2 linked regions of the Homo sapiens genome follow. The protein of the gene in region 1 binds, or shares a complex with, the protein of each later gene. Each region holds a gene or a part of one and is shown on either strand. Other genes may lie near its edges. A codon is read from its position in the direction of its gene.

Region 1 (7,456 bases):
CTAGTATGAAGCAAGTACTAGAAAAACTGGATTGTTCACAAGCTTGCTTCCTGATGCATGCTAGCAATTATCATCCCTACAGGCCAGAATGGGTATATGCTCCACAATAAATTGTCCTGTATCTATCTTCAAAAATAGCTAATATTCCCATTCAAACGTTTACTTTATTAGGATTGGTGTAAAGAAAAATTAAGGACTAAATGGTGTTCACATAAAACATATACATGTGCTGTCTCTACCACATGCAGAAATCTATAATATCATTCCTCAGAACCAGATCACCTGGTTTCATTCCTGGTTCTGGCACTTACCTTGCGCTGTGTGTGAGACCTCGGGAAAATTATCCTTCTCAGTGCCTTAGTTTCCCCATCTGTAAAATGGGGCTAACAGTCTTACCTTTCATTGGTTGTTATGAAGACTGAGCTAATATGCTTAAAGTGCTTAAAAGAAAGCTTAGCACACAGTAAGTACTGTAAGTGGTAACTATTATTATAGACTAATTGTCTGATACCACCTCATCAGTTGGTGAATAAATCACAAATGGATGGATTCTATATAAATGTCCATGAATAGCATATATGCTATGTCTAATCTATACACGTGTATATTCATGCAGATGGTCAATAACATCTATTGAACCCCAACTATATCCCAGATGCTTATTTTCATTATTGAGCTTGTCGCAACAAAAATATATCAAAAGCTGCATTACCATTTGTGCTATATAGACGAGAAAATGATTCAGAAAGACTGGATTTGCCTATATGCAAAATAAAGTCCTATAATAATATACCATTTTTTGAAAGCAACATGTGTACAAAGCAGGGTTTAGTGTCATCAGATGTTAACTGGAGAGAAAAAGCCATTAATAGTGAACTCTGATTAAAAAACAAACCAAAAGCTTATATTTAACAATTTACAGTTTATAAAAAAGGCTTAATGATAACCCTGGAAATAAGAAAACCAAGAACCAGAGATTAACATGCTGAAGATTCAGAAAGCTAGAAAATATTGCAGGCAAGATTTCAACCAAATTTACCTGACTCCAAGTCCAGTGCTCTTCCTGCTTCTCTATCCACAGCCGAATGGGCAAAATGCACTTTTTGTAGCGGCCCAAATCTCTGGAGACTCTGCCTAGAGAACCAGCATCATGGGAATTTGCTCAGCCTGGTTTTATAGAGGCTGCCTCCCTGATCTATAGCGCTCCAATTCTAAAATGGCTTCAATATAACAAGCACTGCAAGATGTGAAATGTACAAAAGATTACAGGGTAGGCGTCATACTCCAGGGGCTGGCAATCCATAAATATTTGCTACTGATGAATGAGGATATTCAGTTTGAAAAAAACTAGGTGTATAGTCTAGGCCAAATCACCTCATTTCTCATAAAGACTTCATCTGCAAGATAGGTGAATGGTTTCTTATCTCATTGGAAGGACAGGCCAGGAAAATAATTCTGCAGTTGCTACAGGATTATTAGCCTTCCATTTTGAAAGCCACACTTAAATTTCTAACTTAGGTCCAATAAGATTGACAGGTTTTACACTCACACACCGTGTGTTGCCAAGGACAGGGATCCAAGAAAAATGAGGGCTCAAACAAATGAGATATCCCTAAGTAAGAAATAGGGTACACTGGAAGCAGTCAAGAAGAAATTCACCAAGAACAAATACTTATACACATTTCCAAATGAAAATGCAAAAGCTGCAGTGTCCAGGTCTACAAACTGCATCTGTGTCTGGCTTCACATGAACTGACAGAATGAGAAATGCAGACAATTTTCATATTCTTATAAGTGCTTCACCTTTCTCTTTTGGTTCCCGAGGCTGATTTTATGTTCATAGCATCATCTTGCCAAATTCCATCTCCCACACAGGGCAAGCAAAATCAGGACCTGATGCTATCTAGCCTTACCAAAGAGAAATGCAATGAAGGCAACGACAAGAAACATGTATTTTACAGAAAGGTTGGCAAATTGCTTACCAAGGCTGCCACCTCTGAAAACCCCATTATATGGGAGTTCTCCATTTGCGGCAAAGATGCACTCACCTTCCCACCTCTTCTTCCCTCCGCTCCCCACCCCCCGACCAGGAAGCCACCGGGCAAATTTCAGACCGAAAAACGTGCTAACACACAATATGGGGGAATTTGGGGTAAAGACACAAAAGAATCTGGCATTAAATGACGGTAAATACTGTGAGAAAATACTCCGATTCTCACCCCCTGATATTTTTTCCTGGGGATCCGGCCTGACTCAGTAACCGGCTCCAACAAACAGATTTTCTTGATTCAAACCCAATTCCCTTCCTAGGGAATCTTGGGTCCTGCCAGGCTCCATAACCAGTGAAGGATGATGAAATGGTTTTACTGCAAAATGGGAGGGGGTTCCCCCACTGCTGTCTCCCAAGGTTAAACCCCTTACTCATCCAGGAGGAGCCAAACACGGGGACTGGGGCTAGAAAACTCATCCGCGTTTGATTAAATTTTAATTTCTGGAAACCAGAAAGCACGGAGCAGAGGTGACAGGGCTGAAGGGGACGTTCTTGCCGACCAAGACGCAGGGAGGGGTCGCGTGGGGCCCGAAGCAGATAGTGAGGGAGGGTCCGGGATCCCCGGCTCCGCTGTCCCTTACGGCACAGTACGGAGTTGCACCCCGCCCGGCCGGCAGGACCTCAGGCGGCCCGAGCCTCTCCAAGAGGTAAAGGGCCCGGCCCCGGAAACAGGGAGGGGCCGCTGCGAGGTCTGGCCTCGCCGCCGGCGGCCGCGCGGAGCGAAAGAGGCAGCGCGCCGCTACCCCACGGGGCCCACCCACTGGGCCGCCGTCGTCGCAGCAGCCAGAGAGGGGCTTCGAGTTTGGGCCCCCGGGGGCCCCGGTCGGACCCCGCGCCGCACTCACCGTGGGAGGGCTGCAGGGAACAAAGACCCTTCCGAGCGAAGCTCCGAGCGAGATGACCTCTTCCTTCCTAAGCCCACTACTCAGGCGGCGGCAGCGGTGCCTGCAGTGGCTGCAGCGGCGGCGGCGGCGGCGACTACCCCGGCTCCGGAATCGGCGGCGGCGGTGGCGGTAGCTCCACTTCCGCTCCGATCGCCACTTCCGCTCCGGTCCTGGCCGCGCCCCGCCCCAAACCGTGTTCTCATTGGGCAAGCGAGGCACGGGGTTGCCACGGCCCCACGGGAGGGGCGCAGACGGAAGGGAGGAGGAAGAAGAGCGAAAGGCAGGGTTGCAGGGGCCGGGGCAGGGCGGATGGCCGGGGGAGGGACCCAGGAGGAGGTGGGCGGAGAAGAAGGAAATGGGGCGGGGGAGCGGGAAAAGGAGGTGGGAGGAGAGAGGGCGGAGCTGGGGGTGGTCAAGATACGGGCTGTGTGGGAATAAGGAGGACTAGGAGTGTGGTCTGGATGGGGATTGCCCTTTCTGCTGGGACTGGAAACGCGCCAGGGCCAGTCCCGGAGATTCGAGGTTTAGCAGTTCCCCCTCCACCCCGAAAGTAATCCTCACTGGGTCGGAGGCCGATGTCAGTCCTCTTACTGTGTGCTTTGGTAATGCTGGAGCCAGGGAAGAACAGAAATTGCTCATCCCTCAATGTTCATTTAATCCTTTCAATCCTTCAGGGTACTTACCTTTTCCTTCTTTGGTAGACTGAAGAGGCCACGTGAAGTGCCAGGAATCCAATGCACAAACGTCTTTTTAAAAAACCTGTGTAGGGTCGAGCGCAGTGGTTCGCGCCTGTAATCTCAGCACTTTGGGAAGCTGAGGTGAGAGGATTGCTTGAGGCCGGGAGTTGTAGGCTGCAGTGAGCTATGGTCATGCCACTGCACTCCAACCTGGGAGACAGAGTGAGACCCTGTCTCCAAAAAAAACCCACAAAAATCTGTGTACATGATTTCTTCTTTAAGATGCCCCCTCGTTGAGGAAGTTCAGGGAAGGAAACAGGCCTCCATGGCTCCCCTCCCCTCCATGACTGCTCTCACAATTACCAACATTCTACTCCTCTGAAGGTAGTTGATTTTGTTTTGTTTTGTTTTGTTTTGTTTTCTGTTTTTGAGACAGAGTCTCTTTCTGTCGCCCAGGCAGTGTCACAATCTTGGCTCACTGCAATCTCTGCCTCCCAGGTTCAAGCAATTCTCCTGCCTCAGCCTCCTGAGTAGCTGGGATAACAGGTGCATGCCACCACTCTCGGCTAGTTTTTGTATTTTTAGTAGACACGGGGCTTCGCCATATTGGCCGGGCTGGTCTCAAACTCCTGACCTCAGGTGATCCACCCGCCTCAGCCTCCCAAAGTGCTGGGATTACAGACATGAACCACCTCGACCGGCTTCAAGGTAGTTGATTTTTAAACTCAGTCCTTCAAAATGCCTCTCGCCTTCCCTCTCTCCTGTTCATTTATTCTTTCAACAAATGTTGAACAGGCTTTTTGCTTAGTGCTGGAGACACAGCAATGAACAAGGCAGGTGGGGCCCTGCTGTCTTGGAGTTTGCAGTCGGGTAGGAGAAAAAGCCAAGTAAATAGGCCTTTGCCGTCTTGCCTTTACCCTTACTTAGCTAAATGACAGACTTCTAATTCACCATTTGGTCTCAGCCTCGCCCGTCAACTGCCAAGTGATCTTTTAAAAATACCATTCTAATCGTGTCCTGTTCTTGCTTAAATTATTTAGTGTGCACTCAGACCTAGATGACAATATATAAGTTCCTTGAGTGTGACAATCAGGGTTCTCCAAAAGCTGCCCTTATCCTTTAGCTGCTATTTCTCCCCCATCGTAAATACCCCAATTCAATTGGATGATTCCTTACCCTCCCAATATGCCATCTCCAGTATTTCTAAGCAGTTTGACTTAGTTGCCAACACTTTTTTAAACTGAAAAGTTTCTGTGTGAACAGAAATCTGCCTCTCTGCCTTGTCTGGTAACACTGTGTCCACATTTCTGTGTGGCAACAATTGGCTGAAGCCAAGGAGTGGCTGCCTGTTCTAGACTGGGCATGGACTTTCCCAAATGCCAGGGACCCTTCTCGACCTGAGTCTGCTTTTGTCACTTATGTTATCTGTCATGTAGGCATGTGTGCCAGTGACCCCTGTACTGTGCCACCTTTTAAGTTGAACAAGATTGAGAACGTGTTGTGTAACGTAAACAGCATGGTTTTGGGTCAAAACCATTGGATTTGAATCCTGGAGAGGTTAGTGCAAAAACTTCCCCATGAGGATCGTCTTTGGCAGACCCTAGACCAGTAATCTAGAGACTACTCAGGCTAAGTAACTTTTAATGTCACAAGACTGTGCCTTATGCCGTCATCCAGAAAATAGCCTAATGGACCAGAGGGCTAATAATGATTATACCACAAATGACATCAACAGTGCATTGAGGGAACAGAAGTGCCCTTTGTCAGGCATTCCTAGGTGCCTGTTAAAGGGTTCAATGGATTAGCTTATTTCACCATCTCTGCATTCTAGGCCAAGCGTCAGCAAACCACAGCTATGAACTGACAGCGATACAGATAAATGTTAAAATACAATGTGGTAGGTGCAACCATAGAAATAAATATATGTGCAGGGTATTATGGGAGCTTGGGAGAAGAGCACCTAACCCATCTTGGGAATATGATGGGAGAGCAGGAAAGATTTCCTTAAAGAAGTGATACTAGAGCCTTATATACTGCAGTGAATCTTTTTTCAAATTATAGACTTAATTTTTAAAAATGTTTTTGTAGAGACAGAGTCTCATTATGTTGCCCAGGCTGGGCTCAAACTCCTGGCCTCAAGTGATTCTCCTGCCATGGCCTCCCAAAGTGCTGGGATTACAGGTGTGAGCCACTGTGCCTGGCCAATAGACTTAATTTTTTAGAACAGTTTTAGGTTTACAGAAAAATTGACCAGATATTACAGAGTTCCCACATTCCCTCTCCCTCCTCCACACAATTTCCCCTATTATTAACATCTTGTATTAGAGTGGTACATTTGTTGCAATTGATGAGCCAGTATTAATACATCATTATTAACTAAAGTCCGTAGTTTACATTGGGGTTCATTCTTTATGTTGTACATAGTTCTATAGGTTTTGACACATGCATAATGTCATGTATATAAATAAAAGTTTTACTGTCCTAAAAATCTTTGCTTCAACTCTTCATCCCTCACTCCCTCCCCTCACCCCAACCTTTGGCAACCGCAGACCTTTTACACTATAGTTTTACCTTTTCTAGAATGTCATATAGTTACATCATACAATATGTTGCTCGCTTTCTTTCTTTCTTTCTTTCTTTCTTTCCTTCCTTCTTTTTTTTTTTTTTTGACAGGGTGTCACTCTGTCACCCAGGCTGGAGTGCAGTAGTGCAATCACAGCTCACTGCAGCCTCGACCTCCTGGGTTCAAGTGATTCTCCCACCTCAGCCTCCCTAGTAGCTGGGACTACAGGCGTGTGCCACCACACCCAGCTAATTTTTGTATTTTTTATAGAGATGGGGTTTTGCCATGTTGCCCAGGCTGGTCTTGAACACCCAGGCTCAAGCAATCCTCTTGCCTTGGCCTCCTAAAGTGCTGGGTAATAAAGTGTGAGCCATTGTACCCAGCACATATGTCGCCTTTTCTGACTGGATTGTTTTATTAAGTAATGTGATTTAAGTTTCCTTCATGTCTTTTTATGATTTGATAACTTATTTCTTTTGATTGCTTAAAAAATCCCCTTGTATGAATCTACCATATTGTGTTTATGCATGAACTTATTCTTTTTTTTTTTCCAGAGAGAGTCTCACTCTGTTGCTCAGGCTGGAGTGCAGTGGCATGATCTCAGCTCACTGCAACCTCCGCCTCCCAGGTTCAAGTGAGTCTTGCCTCAGCCTCTCAAGTAGCTGAGATTATTGGTGTGTGCCACCATGCCTAGCTAATTTTTTATTTTTAATAGAGACAGGGTTTTGCCATGTTGGCCAGGCTGGTCTCAAACTCCTGACCTTAGGTGATCTGCCTGTCTCGGCCTCCCAAAGTGCTGGGATTACGGGTGTGAGCCACCACACCTGGCCCATTAACCTATTCTTAAGGATTGACTTGTATCCTCCAGAAAGATATGCTGAAGCTTTCACCCTTGGAATCTGTGTATGTGACCTTATTTGGAAAAGGGCTTTTGCAGTATAATCAATTAAAATGAGGTCATTCGAGTGGGTCCTAATCCAACGTGGCTGGTGCCCTAAAGAAGGAGGAAAATGCCATCTGAAGACAGGACACACATGGGAAACAACACATGACAATGGAGGCCGAGACTGGAGTGATGAGCTGTGAGCCAGGGAACACTAAGGATTGCTGGGCAGCACCAGAAGCCAGGAAGAGGCATGGAAGGATTCTACCCAGAGTCTCAAAGGGAGCAAGACTCTGCTGTCACACTGATTTTAGACTTCTAGCCTCCAGAATGGTGAGAGAATATGTTTTTGTGGTTTTAAGCCACCCAGTTTGTGGCCCTTTGTTATGGCAGGCTTAG
Region 2 (5,124 bases), on another chromosome or scaffold:
AAATGCAGAGAAGGGGCATTAGAGCTGAGGCCATGCAGGATGAATAGGAGTATGAAGCAGAGTAGAGGGGGCTGTTTTCTGGTGTAAAAAACAACTTGGGCAAAGGCGTGGAGGCTGGAAAGTAACCTCCAGGGATGAACGACATGGGGTTGGAGACTCTGAGGAGACTTTGGAAGAGCCCTGTATGTATTCTGAGGCACTGGGGAGCCATGGGAGGTGTTTGAGCTGGAGAGGGACCTCATATCTGGGGTTGGAAAGATCCTCCCAGGACTGCCATGGGGAATGGAATGGAGGGGCAACTCTGAGTCTCCAGGAAGGAAGCCACAGGCAAGGGCAGTGCAGTGTGTCAGAGGCATAAAGGAAGACTCCATCCCCCTCCAGTGAGTCTCCTCTGTGCCTGTTTATTACATCATCCTGTGGTATTAAGTGAGCACCTACTGTGTGCCAAGCCTGGCCTTTGCCCCCAGGGAACTCACAGCCTTGTGGACAGTAACAGAGGAATAAATGCTCCTGAGAGTGGGCGGAGAACGCAGGGTAAGGAGCTAGCGATGGCCCAGAGTGGGCACCTTTATTTGTTTAGAGAAAGTGAAACTGTAGCCGGGCGCGGTGGCTCACGCCTGTAATCCCAGCACTTTGGGAGGCCGAGGCGGACGGATCACGAGGTCAGGAGATGGAGACCATCCTGGCTAACACGGAGAAACCCCGTCTCTACTAAAAATACAAAAAATTAGCCGGGCGTGGTGGCGGGCGCCTGTAGTCCCAGCTACTCGGGAGGCTGAGGCAGGAGAATGGCGTGAACCCGGGAGGCGGAGCTTGCAGTAAGCCGAGATCGTCTCAAAAAAAAAAAAAAAAAAAAAAGAAAAAGAAAGTGGAACTGGAACAGTATGGCAGAGGGAACAGCCTACACAAATGCTTGGGGGCGCGAAAGAAGTTGGTGTGTCACGGAGGAACAGGGAGGGAGGCAGGGTGGGCGCAGAGGGATTGAGGGGAGGTGGCAGGGAACCGCGGGGACTGTTTTAGGGAAGGTGAGTCCAGACCCCGCTGAGATGAGCTGGGTGTCTAAGGTCCCAGGGAGCCTTCCCTTCCCGTGACACCACCAAGCAATTCTCCACCAGGGACAGGGGCATTCACATGCCCAAAATCACTGGCCATCTTCAGCACAAGGGGGTGCTCCAGAGCCAGGAATGCCTCTGGTCCCGGCATTGGCCTCTCATGGAGACAATGACAGAACCCACGCGGAAGAGCGCCCTGGCTGCTGGGGAAGGCAGAACACAGAGAGACATTGATCAGCGGGGTTGTCCACACCTGGAAGTGGCGTGGGGGCCCTGGCTTCAGAGAGCTGCTGCCCAACACAGGAGGCGCTGGCCAGCCCCCAGCCCTGGAGGGGCAGCTGCATTCCTGGGAAGCCCTTGACCCACATCCCCAGCACGGGAGGGGAGGCTCTGGAGTGGGGCATTGCTCTCTCTGCTGCGCTCCTGGACTCTGCAGGAAGAGGGTGTCTTGGCTATCATGGAGACGCTGACCTCAGCCCCAGCCCTGCCTCCTGGGCAGGCCTGGACCAGGTGTGTTCGCCCTGGGTTGGGGTCAGTCCCACAGCAGCGCCAGGGCCTGGCCCATCGAGGACTCGGTGGCCTCGGCCAGGTATTCGCAACACAGCCAGTCCTCGAGGCTGGGAGCTTCCCCACCTGCGGCCCGCTCTGCTAGGCGCAGGACCAGCAGCCCGCGGCGCACCCGCAGCCAGGGCCCGAGCGCTCGGAGCCAGGGACCAAGCGGTGCTCCGCGGCCGCGCAGCTCAGGCCCGGGCCCCCAGAGCAGCGCCTGCAGCGCGCCCCGCGTCCGGGACGCCGAGGGCCGCAAGCGGGTCAGCTGTGCTGCCAGGAGCTCCAGGCCCGCGGCCAAAGGCGTGGTCGAGGGCGCAGCAAGGCTGAGCAGCGCTCGGAGGAGGCTGCCCAGCTGCGGCGCGTGGGGGCCCGGGGATCCCGGGGGTCCAGGGGGCTGCAGACAGACGCGGCCAAAGTCAGTGAGGAGCAGGCGTGGGGGCCCCGTCGTCGCACAGCCCCGAGGTGCCACCAGCAGCAAGTTCTCCGGCCGCAACTCGACTAGGGCCGCGCCCCACGCCTCCAGGAACTTCAGGGCCGCGCTCAGCTGCAGCAGCAGCAGGGCCACAGCCCACACGAACTCCTCCGGCGGCTGCGTGCAGGCCTCCGCCAGCCACTGCGCCACCGTGCGCTCTGGAACCTCGGCTGCCAGCGCCACTGCGCCTCTCCAGGGCGCCCCGGGCAGTGTGCCTTCAGGCACCAGGCCACACAGCCCCTGCAGATTGAAGTGTGGAGACAGGGAGGCCTGCAGCTCCAGGCCCCACGGGTGGGGCACGTCCGCCCCGGGCTTGGGCACCTGCAAGGCAGAGGGGGTGTCGGGGCCTGGATCACTGGGCCCCCCACAAGCACCGCCTGCCCCAGTGCTACCTGCCCCGAAGCCTCCCACGCACACCCCCAAACTGCCCCCACTACGGCTAGGGGCTGCCTGCATCCCTCCAGCAGCAGGAGGTCAGTGTTAATTTGGAAGTTAGTCACCAGTAAGGACTTTCAGGAAAGTTAAGCCAGGGAAGAAGATGTTCCTGGGCAATGAGTTCGAAAGCAGATTCCTGGGCCGGGCGCGGTGGCTCACGCCTTCCCAGCACTTTGGGAGGCAGGGGGATCGCTGAGGTCAGGAGTTCGAGACCAGCCTGGCCAACGCAGGGAACGCTCGTCTCTACTAAAAAATGCAAAACTAGCTGGGCGTGGTGGCGCGCCTGTCATCCCAGCTACTTCGGAGGCTGAGGTGAGAGAATCGCTTGAGCCCGGGAGGTGGAGGTTGCAGTGAGCCGAGAACGCGCCACTGCACTCCAGCCTGGGCAACAGAGTGAGACTCTGTCTCAAAAACAAAAAACAAAACAAAAAACACAAAAGCAGATCCCCGGCCAGAGAGGTGTGGGAGGGGTTTTGACAAGAGCTCCAAGGCCATACCCATGGCCCCATACTTTAGAAACATGGTTTCCTGGGTTAACTGCGTTGATTCACGTGTTAGTTGCAAAATAAACAAGTCTAATATGGTCTGGATCTGTGTCCCCACCAAATCTCATTCCCCAGTGTTGGAGGTGGGGTCTGGTGGGAGGCGACTTGGATCTTGGGGGTGGTTTATCATGAATGGCTCAGCACCATCTCCCTTGGCACTGTCGTTGGGATAACGAGTGAGTTCTCGTGAGATCTGGCTGTGTAAAGGTGAGTAGCACCTCCTCCCTCCCTTCCTCCTGCTCCCACCGTGTGAGATGCCTGCTCCCGCCTCGCCTTCCACTATGATTGGAAGCTTCCTGAGGCCTCCCCAGAAGCAGAAGCCACCAGAACCATGAGCCAATTAAGGCCCTTTTCTCTATAAATTACCCAGTCTCCAGTATTCCTTTTTCTTTTCTTTTCTTTTTTCTTCTCTTTTGTTTTTCTTTTTTGAGACAGAGTCTCACTCTGTCGCCCAGGCTGGAGTGCAATAGCCCAATTTTCGAATCTCAGCTCACTGCAACCTCCGCCTCCCAGGTTCAAGTGATTCTCCTGCCTTAGCCTCCAAGTAGCTGGGACTTCAGGTGCGCACCACCGCGCCCGGCTAATTTTTGTATTTTTAGTAGAGATGGGGGTTTCACTATGTTGGCCAGGCTGGTCTCGAACTCCTGACCTCATGATCTGCCCGCCTTGGCCTTCCAAAGTGCTGAGATTACAGGCGTCAGCCACTGTGCTGCCCAGCCTTTTTTTTTTTTTTTAGACGGAGTCTCGCTCTGTCGCCCAGGCTGGAGCGCAGTGGTGCGTTCTCGGCTCACCGCAAGCTCTGCCCCCTGGGTTCATGCCATTCTCCTGCTTCAGCCTCCCAAATAGCTGGGACTACAGGTGCCCACCACCACGCCCGGCTAATTTTTTGTCTTTTTAGTAGAAACAGGGTTTCACCGTGTTAGCCAGGATGGTCTGTATCTCCTGACCTCGTGATCTGCCCGCCTCGGCCTCCCAAAGTGCTGGGATTACAGGTGTGAGCCACTGTGCCCGGCCTTTTTCTTTTTTTTTTTTTTGAGACGGAGTCTCACTCTGTTGCCCAGGCTGGAGTGCAATGGCCCAATCTTGGCTTACTGCAACCTCTGCCTCCCGGGTTCAAGCAATTCTCCTGCCTCAGTCTCCCAAGTAGCTGGGTTTACAGGCGCCCGCCACCACACCTAATTTTTGTATTTTTAGTAGAGGCTGGGTTTCACCATGTTGGCCAGGCTGGTCTTGAACTCCTGACCTCAGCTGATCCGCCCGCCTTGGCCTCCCAAAGTGCTGGGATGACAGGCGTGAGCCACCGCGCCCGGCTCCAGTATTTCTTTACAGCAGTGTGAGAACTGACTCACAGAAAGGCCAAATGAAACAAGCCCTGGGTTATGTCTAAGATGGGGCACTGGGGACACCTCAGAGAGGGTGGGGCTGTGGGGCTCACCTTGGCGACCAGGATGTGCCAGGCGTCCTCGTGCGCGCGCACCACGCGGTAATACAGGGCGTCCCCGCTCTCTGCGCAGGGTGAGCTGTCTAGGAGGCGGAAGCTGTGGCCGGGGTGGCAGGGCCCGGGGTGGCCCCCCATGAGCCGGGCACGGAGCCGGGCATAGATGGTACGGAGGCCCTGCAGCTGCCGCGCAGCCAGTGCAGTGTGCACAGCCTCCGGGCTGTGCAGATCGCGGAGGGAGAGGCCCAGTGGGGCGTCAGCCGGGCCAAAGGTCAGCTCTGCAGGGAGACAGGCTGGTCCCACTGCAGCCTGGCTCTTGTCCACACTGTGGGACCCCAGAAAGGGTCTCCGAGGCGGCTGTACTTGGATGGAGCTGGGATGGAGGGTCCTGCGGGTGGGCAGTGACTGGGTCCGGGTTAGGATCTTCTTGGGCAGGGGTGGGGGCAGGGGCTCTGGGTTGGTGGAGAGGGACCCAGGGGTCCGGAGGCGGCAGGCCTTGGAGGGCAGCAGGTGGGCACGGATCTGACCTGCAGGGAGAGACAGTGGGGGAGGGTTGAGGACAGGCGGAGTGGGAACGGGACACGTGACTCCACCTCTCAGCCTCGGTTTCCCCATCTCTAACATGGAAGTAAT

What was found.
Region 2: the proteins of YWHAB (region 1) and PEAK3 are in contact, whole or in part, in a cryo-EM structure (PDB 8DP5), measured with the Homo sapiens proteins. Residues at the interface, in NP_003395.1 of Homo sapiens: Val48, Lys51, Asn52, Arg58, Lys122, Arg129, Tyr130, Gly171, Leu174, Asn175, Val178, Glu182, Ile219, Leu222, Asn226, Leu229, Trp230; in NP_940934.1 of Homo sapiens: Arg66 (codon at 4,905), Thr67 (codon at 4,902), Gln68 (codon at 4,899), Ser69 (codon at 4,896), Leu70 (codon at 4,893), Pro71 (codon at 4,890), Thr72 (codon at 4,887), Arg73 (codon at 4,884).

The regions. Positions count from the first base shown.
Region 1 is NC_000020.11:44,881,326-44,888,781, reverse strand, and holds the start of YWHAB (14-3-3 protein beta/alpha), read right to left. Parts: upstream 3,078-7,456; 5' UTR 2,896-3,077; intron 1,135-2,895; exon of another isoform or gene 1,040-1,134; intron 1-1,039. UniProt on the Homo sapiens protein: Adapter protein implicated in the regulation of a large spectrum of both general and specialized signaling pathways. Binds to a large number of partners, usually by recognition of a phosphoserine or phosphothreonine motif.
Region 2 is NC_000019.10:2,274,096-2,279,219, forward strand, and holds the end of PEAK3 (protein PEAK3), read right to left. Parts: intron 5,019-5,124; coding exon 4,489-5,018; intron 2,395-4,488; coding exon 1,585-2,394; 3' UTR 536-1,584; downstream 1-535.